3 separate regions of the Homo sapiens genome follow, and all the other regions are linked to region 3. The links come from fine-mapping of genetic effects on gene expression. A gene starts in region 3. Each other region holds a variant in brackets. All regions are shown on one strand. Distances are between the middles of the regions.

Region 1 (2,500 bases), 27 kb before region 3:
CAGACAGTCCCACCACAGCTCATTGCCATGTGCTGGCACAAGAATCTCTACTTTTCTTGGTCTTAGGTGATAACCACACATGGTTCTCATTACTTGGATTGAATAAGATTTATGGAAGGTAGTTTGCATATTAAGTGCTCAATAAATACTTGTTGAATGAATGAATGGAAGGATGAATGGATGGATGGATAGATGGATACAAGGGTGGATGATGGACAGATGTATGGATGTATGCATAGATGGAAAGATGGACAGACACATGGGTGAGAGTACAAGGAGAACTACTCACTATGTGACCAGGACTCCCAGGGACACCTGTGGGGCCAGGAGGCCCAGGGGGACCTGGAAAAAGACAGGATGTCCTAAGGGCCGGAACAAAGTACAATCTCAGGAAGTGCCCCATCAGCTCCCTCCTGATAGCCACAAACCCTATTCCCTCTGCCATCTACCAACTTCACCCTTTACCCCTGGCCTGGACTCAACTTACCCATGGGCCCTGGAGGGCCTGGAGGCCCAGTGGGTCCCTGGGGCCAGTGGTTGTTGGTCTCAGTGAAGGTGTTGGACAGCAATGGGTCTCCTGGGTGAGCAAAGATGATGAGTGAGTAGAGCTGGGTAGAGTGGGGTGGTTAGTCTTCACCTGCCACCTCTGCCAAGACAGCTTGGACTGCCCTATGGGGCAGCCTGCAGCATGGCTGGTACCACCTGGGCACCTGCTCCAGGGTGAGGAGTGTGGAGAGTGTTGGTCCCGCAAGACCAGGAGGCAGGGAGATGTGGGTTCTAACCCCACTGCAATCCAGCTGGTGACATCCAGCAACACTTTCTACTTTTCAGAGCCTGTACTGTCACCTGTCAAATGGGAATGACAATAAAAGATACCATTTATCCACCACCTACTGTGTGCCAGGCTTCTGTACATGGATGTTACGCAGCTCTGGGAGGCTGGCACTGTCATTGTCCCCATCGTATGGATAGTGAGATGGAATGAATGCTGGGATGGCAGAATGAATGAATGGTGTGCTGGGTTGTGCACCAAAAACACAGTGGAGAAGAGGCTGAAACCTGGCGCTCCACACTCTGACCCCTGGCAGCCCATGGGCAGGTCAGGCTGGGCTGCCAAAGGGAAGAAGCCAAGGACGCACGTCAGGGCCTGGAGGAGGGGCCGGGCCTGTGGCCTTGGGAGTTCAGGACTCACTTCCTGCCGCC[G/A]GGTCTTTTGCGTCCCAGTGTTCCGAGAACTGGATTCCAGCCAGTTCCAAGGCTTGGGAGGGCCTGATGCCCGGTGGCTCTAAGCACAGGTTCTGGAGGCAGCCTGGGTTTGAAGCCGTTCCCCTACGCCCAGGCTGTGGGACCCTGGCAAGCCACCTTCCCTCTCTGGTCCTCAGTGTTCCTCACCTGTAACCACAGGAGGACAACGGCGCCTGCTGGAGGACTGGGTCACATGTGGCCTATCGTGAGCAGGGCTGGCACACAGAAGGCACGTGGCAGATGGTAGCGGGCACTGTGCTGATGGCTACTCCACCCCCACCTCCACCTGCTGGGATCCCAGGGGGACTCACCATGCTGGGAGATCCGGGCATGGGGTGGCCCAACAGGGGCTGGGGGCCCAGGGGGGCCAGGAGGCCCTGGTGGCCCAGGAGGTCCCCTCTCTCCAGGGGTGCCCACAGCTCCAGCCCGGCCAGGGCTCCCTGGGGGGCCCTGTGGACCTGCAATGGAATCACACGGATTTGTGGGTATACAGGAGGCAAGGAGGCCCAGGGTGGCCTTGAGCGACAGGACAAGGCAGCCTGGAGCAGTGGGCATGAGAGAGGGCCCCGGAGTCCACAGGCCTAGGCTGCCTGGTAGTCTAACAGGGGGATGAGCACAGCACCTAGTTCTCCACCTCGTCCAGGCTGAGTCTTCCTTCCTTGGGGCTCCCAAACCCCCAAAACCCCTCATAGAAACCCTGGTCACATGGGGCAAGCATTGCTGCTTCTCCTCTGCCCAGCCCTGCTCCCAGCAGCATGGAAGCTCCAGAAGGGCAGGGACATGTCTGACCCCACCCAGTGCCCAGCTCAGAGCCTGATAAGTGTAGGTGCCCAGGGAATGTGGGTCAGTGAACATAAGAGAGGACTTCATGGAGCCCAGGCGTGGGCAGGGCACTCCGTGGTGGGGTGCTGAGTGAAGAGGCAAGTAGATGAAAGGGCCCAGGTCATCCTGGCCATGTCAGGAGCAGGGAAGGGCCCACCTGGTGGAGGGGATGGCCAGAGGAGCTGTGGGGCAGCATTGCGGGCACTCACCTGGTGGGCCTCTCATCCCCATTGGGCCCCGACTGCCGGCATCTCCCTTGGGGCCGGTGGGCCCGGGAAGCCCCCAAGCACCGACTTGGTCTGGGGGGTAAAGCATATCAGACTGGCAGCTCCACATCTGCTCTTGACCCCCACCCTGGCCCCAGCCCCCCAACCAGCATCTACCATTTCGGGGAAGCAGCGGGACCCTCACACTCTCTATGGCTCCTGGCAGCCCT
Region 2 (2,814 bases), 29 kb after region 3:
GTCTCTCTCTGTTTTCTTTTACTATACTATGGGTAGCCAAAACCGTAAGAAGTGAAACTCCAGATAAAGGGGGACTACTGTATTATTTATTAATAAATAGTCATGAGTCACTTAACGATGGGGATATGTTCTGAGAAATGTGATTTGATTTGATTTCATCATTGTGTGAACATGACAGAGTGCACTCACGCGAACCTAGCTGAGATAGCCTACTACACACCTAGGCTATGTGGTGTAGCCTATTTCCCCTAGGCTACAAATCTGTACAGCATGTGACTGTACTGAATACCATAGGTAACTGTATCACAGTGGTATTTGTGCATCAAAACGTAGAAAAGGTACAGTAAAAATACAGTATTATAATTTTTTTTTTTTTGAGACAGGATCTTACTCTGTTGCCCAGGCTGGAGTGCAGTGGCACGATCTCAGCTCACTGCAACCTCCGCCTCCTGGGCTCAAGCCATCCTCTCATCTCAGCCTCCCATGTAGCTGGGACCACAAGCACAAGCCACTATGCCTGGCTAATTTTAAAAAATTTTTTTGTAGAGATGGGGTTTTGCCATGTTGCCCAGGCTGGTCTTGAACTCCTGGGCTCAAGCTACCCACCTGCCCTGGCCTCCCAAAGTGCTGGGATTACAGGCATAAGCCACTGCACCTGCCCCAGAATTATAATCTTATGGGATCACTATTGTATATGTGGTCCATCATTGACGGAAATGTCATTATGTAGCAAATGACTATTACATATTCAGAGACAACTTCTGGTATAGTGGTGTGAGGAGCTCCACCTACCCTCTGCCCAGAGAAATAACTATAACTGGTAAATATTATATGAAAAAACAACCATTTAAAGTCTCTGGAAATTGTCCTGAGGTCACACAGCAAATGAAACATTTATTCAAGAAAATCGGCTGGGGCCGGGCGCAGTGGCTCACACCTGTAATCCCAGCACTTTGGGAGGCTCAGGCAGGCGGATCATGAGGTCAGGAGATTGAGACCATCCTGGCGAACATGGTGAAACCCCGTCTCTACTAAAAATACAAAAAAATTAGCCAGGCGTGGTAGTGGGTGCCTGTAGTCCCAGCTACTCGGGAGGCTGAGGCAGGAGAACGGTGTGAACCCGGGAGGTGGAGCTTGCAGTGAGCAGAGATCGTGCCATTGCACTCCAGCCTGGGCAACAGAGTGAGACTCCATCTCAAAAAAAAAAAAAAAAAAAGAAAGAAAGAAAAAAAAGAAAATCGGCCTGGCGCAGTGGCTCACGCCTGTAATTCCAGCACTTTGGGAGGCTGAGGCAGGCGGATCATGAGGTCAGGAGTTCGAGACGAGCCTGGCGAATGTGGTGAAACCCGGTCTCTATTAAAAATACAAAAAAATTAGCCGGGCATAGTGGCACGCGCTTGTAGTCCCAACTACTCGGGAGGCTGAGGCAGAAGAATCGCTTGAACCCAGGAGGCAGAGGTGGCAGTGAGCCGAGATCACCCCACTGCACTCCAGCCTGGGCAACAGAGCAAGACTGTCTCAAAAAAAAAAAAAAAAAAAAAAAAGAAGAAGAA[A/G]AAAGAATCTATTTAATCTCAGAACAGTAGAACAGTGAGAGCCTGTGGCATTTGAGCCATGGCCCATTCTCTCCCTTCCCCGTCCCCCCAGCTCAGCGAGATGGATGTTCTACTCCAGGTGGATGCAGCCAAGAACACAGGTCTCCCTCTCCTCAGTCTCAGCTGGGGAGCTAGAGTATCTCCCTAGGAAGGGCAGGACATCAGCATTTCTCATCCACCACGTCCTGTGTTGTAGATACTCCATTCTAGGCAAGAGTGGCTGAGAGTTCTGGGGTTCTCCTCCTCTACCCAGCCCCACTCTGTAAGGTGGAAGCTCTACCTTAGGTGCAGCAGGCCAAAAAAATGCCTGGTTGCATTTGCCCCAGCTCATTCATAGGGTAGAGGTTCCATAACATAAGTAGCAAGCCAAGAAGATCAGAAGCTACTGCCCCATCCAGCAGCCTGTTCATAAAGCACGTGTGTTATTCTCTGAGAAGGGGGCCCATTCTCCCTACCTCCAGAGCAGTTGTGCAGAGGTTTTGCCCAGAAAGTGGCAGGCTGTAAGAACAGAGGGATCTTAAGGGAACTGACTTCCTTTGGAACTGAGTGTGGAGGAGTTCCAGCTTAAGGGGAAAAGCAATGGAGATTTTGATGGTAAGCAATTTTGGTGGCAAGCAATTATGAGGAGGCTAGTAGCTTGTCAGATTAACAAACTAAACTATAGAGTAGCTACTGAGAAGAACGCTCCTGGAGTTGTAACAAACCTCAAAGACTGGCCTCAAAGAGTACCTTTGCAAAAGGGCCTGAATTTAATTGAATCACATGTGGAGCAATTTCTACCCCAGGGCACTGTTGAAAACAATAGAGCAATTAGTTATCAATGGAGGATAATAGCTGGGTACGATTCCAACAAAGCCAGACAGCTTGACAGAGAAATCATAAAAAGAGACAAAGAGACCCCTGCTAAAACCACTGTCACCTAGGGTGACCCCGGTCATGCCCAAGGCTGCTTTCTCTGAGGAGTAAAATCAGAAGCTGCATACTTAGGAGAAATAGACTTCGCTAAAATAGTCCAGCTAAGTCACTAAACAAATAAGCAAACAAAAAAGAGCCCCAGAATGTGAGAGTTCAGTGTTTAGAGTGCTACAGTATATTCTCTAAAATGTCCAGTGGTTAACAACCATTTATGAGACATGAAAAAAAAAAAGCAGGAAAGTGTGACCAGACATAAGAAAAAGAAAAGCAGGCAACAGAAACTACCTTTAATCTTCAGAGTATGCAA
Region 3 (2,500 bases):
TGCTTCAACCACCTCCGTCCTCCAGCCCTGCCCATGTCAACTGCTCTTGCTAGCCCAGCAGGGGCATGCTGGCCCCTGACCACTGGGAAAGGAGAATTTCTGAAAAGAATTAAAGAATTGAGGCCGTAGGGGGTGGGGGCCGCGCAGGCCTTTGAATGGGATGAAAAGGCCTGGAGAGGCCTGGCTACTCCACATTGTCTGCCTTGGACAACGGCGGCTGGCCTTTAGGAGGGGACCCTCGCTGGGGCTGCAGCCAGGACAGAGGCCAGGACAGGTTCAAACACTGTCATCAAGGATAGAAGGGCAGATTTGCAACCTAGCTCTTCAGTGAATAGCCCATGAGGCTAAAAGATGATGCCAATTCCCTAGGGTCTCAGTTTGCTTAACCGTTGAATGGGGACAGTTTTCCCTACCTCATTCGGTCCTTCAAGGATTGATGAGGACACTATATATAATAATGGGCCCCACCATGTCAGGTTCTGGGAGCTCCTCCGTAAAGGCCAGCAGGGAGGAGGTTCCCCGCCGCTAGGAGAGCAGAAGGAAGACTGTGCTCCCTCTTTTCTCTGTCCAAAATGCCAGGTCCCTGGGGTATCTCCGACACTGACCCACTGGGCTGTGAGACTCCACCCCAGTCCCTCCTCCGAGGGAGATAAATAGCCTGGGTACAAAACAAACAAACAAAAAACAAAACAAAGCAAAAAAACAGGAACAGGGAAAAGGGGAGAGAGGGTCCGAGAAGAGTCGGCTAGGGGGTGTCATAGGCCTTTCCCAAGTGCAGGGGGAGGGGCCCTAGGGACAGGGGAACAGAAGGGCCAGGGCTTCGCCCTCGTTGCGCCCCTTCCCCCTCCTCTCGAGCTCCTGGGTTGAAAGGGAGGGAGTAGGGGAGGCAGCCAGCTCCGACACATGGAGTAGGGGACCCCGCACTCGCGGGAGCCTCAGCCGGACCGCGGGATGGCCGTGTCCCTGCCCTCACCCGGGCTGGGGACTGGATCGCCCTCCAATCCCAGCCCTTCCTGGAGGTGGGGGCGTGTGCGCGCCGGGACCCTCGGCCAGCGGGGTGCAAAGGCGCCGGGAGCTCTTACCTGCGTCCGGAGAACGGAGCTGCCCCGATGCTCCACGCAGCGCCGCCTCCCGGGAGCAGGAGCCCGAGGCAGAGCAGCGCCCAAGCCCGCGGGCCGCCCATGCTGCACCAGGCGCCCTCCGCGCGCGGCCCCTCGCGGTCGCCGCCCCCAGCCTGTCCTCCCCGCCTGCCTGCCCGCGCCGCCAGCCGCCCCGGACGCGCGGAGCCCGGTTTCCAGCTCCGCGGCCGGAGGGCGGGCAGGAGGCGGGCGGGCGGGGGCGGGGGCGCGCGCTCCCGGCCTCGCCCGGCCCCTCTGCGCTGCCCCCCGCCCCCTGCGCCGCCGCTGCCAACCCGGAAGGAGCCCGGAGGGGCCCGGGCGGCCAGGGCGCCCCCGCCAGGAGGCCCGCCAGGTGTCCACCTGAGCCCCACGCCCTGCGCCGCGGGGCCCTTTTGGGGGCGGGGTGCCAGCTCCGAGGTGTCCTCCCACGGGCTGTAGACTGGGAAACTGAGGCCCGGGCCACGGTCCCAGACGCAGCCGGGACCCGAACCCACCTCACCTGAGCGAATGATATCCGGGACTCATCCTTTTTCGACACCTTTGCGGGATCCAGCCCTCCAAGGAAAGCTTCCTGAGCAGTGCGCGCCACGTGTATTGGGCACCTCACCGCGGCCACTTCACATCCTATCTCAGGTGACTCTTCAAGCCACTCTGCTCGAACTGGGCACAATATCCCCATTTTACAGAAGAGAAAACTGAGGCCCAGGCACTCGCAGTCTCCCTAGGAGGAGATCTGGGCTGACCCCATAAGTGCAGAGTCTGTTCTTATTCTCATTTTACAGGTGGAGAAACTAAGCCACAGAAAGGAGCTGTCATTTACCTAAAGCACCGTGGCAGGGGTTTGGCAGAGCCAGGATTTGTACCCAGATCGCCTGACTTCGGAGAGTAACAGCTCTTAACCACAGCACTTCGGTCTATGCCTTGATTTCACCATATGTAACAAGGTAAGAATTGGTGTTGGGTGGTTTCATCTGGGGTACATGGATGGGCTTCTGGAGGAATGGCTCTACATCCCACAAAGGTATATGTAAGCGTAGTGTGTGTGTGCAGGGGTGCATGTGTGTGTCGTATGTGTGTATGATGGATGTGTGTGCATGCTTGATGTGGATTTATGTGCATGTGTGTTATGTGTGTGTCTGTGATAGGAGTGTGTGTTTATAGGGAGAGACCAGAGCTCTCATCAGAGGGGACCCAGACCCCCAATCTCCCAGGGCAGTCTCTAACCCCGCCTTCTGCCTGGATCGATGGGCAGTAGTTAGGCCTGGGCTGGGGAAGCCCTTGCCCAGCTTGGCTACTTCCTGTTATGGCTTGTCCAGACCCACGGTCCCTTCTAGAAACACTCCCCAGAAAGGATCTGCCAGTCACTGGATTGCCCCTCCTGG

What was found. PIP is the estimated chance that this variant, and not a neighbour inherited with it, causes the effect. A credible set is the group of variants that fine-mapping cannot tell apart.
Region 1: its variant is the best candidate, but not a certain one, in a credible set for the expression of EMID1 in pancreas (GTEx, PIP 0.56).
Region 2: its variant is the best candidate, but not a certain one, in a credible set for the expression of EMID1 in tibial nerve (GTEx, PIP 0.58).

What each region holds. Positions count from the first base shown.
Region 1 is chr22:29,231,456-29,233,955 of GRCh38, reverse strand. It overlaps EMID1 (EMI domain containing 1), which reads right to left. Exons shown (of 15, transcript NM_133455.4): 7 at 2,274-2,363; 8 at 1,554-1,700; 9 at 488-577; 10 at 290-342. Among named protein-coding and RNA genes, the nearest start is that of EMID1, 27 kb to the right of the region's middle. RefSeq lists an enhancer at 1-311. The variant G/A (reference allele first, on the strand shown) is at 1,204.
Region 2 is chr22:29,175,917-29,178,730 of GRCh38, reverse strand. No RefSeq gene overlaps it. Among named protein-coding and RNA genes, the nearest start is that of EMID1, 29 kb to the left of the region's middle. The variant A/G (reference allele first, on the strand shown) is at 1,554.
Region 3 is chr22:29,204,722-29,207,221 of GRCh38, reverse strand. EMID1 (EMI domain containing 1) reads right to left here and starts at 1,326. Exons shown (of 15, transcript NM_133455.4): 1 at 1,083-1,326. The coding sequence starts at 1,183. LOC101929638 (a long non-coding RNA gene) reads left to right here and starts at 1,390. Exons shown (of 5, transcript XR_938134.3): 1 at 1,390-1,751; 2 at 1,901-2,062. RefSeq lists silencers at 892-951, 972-1,131, 1,142-1,231.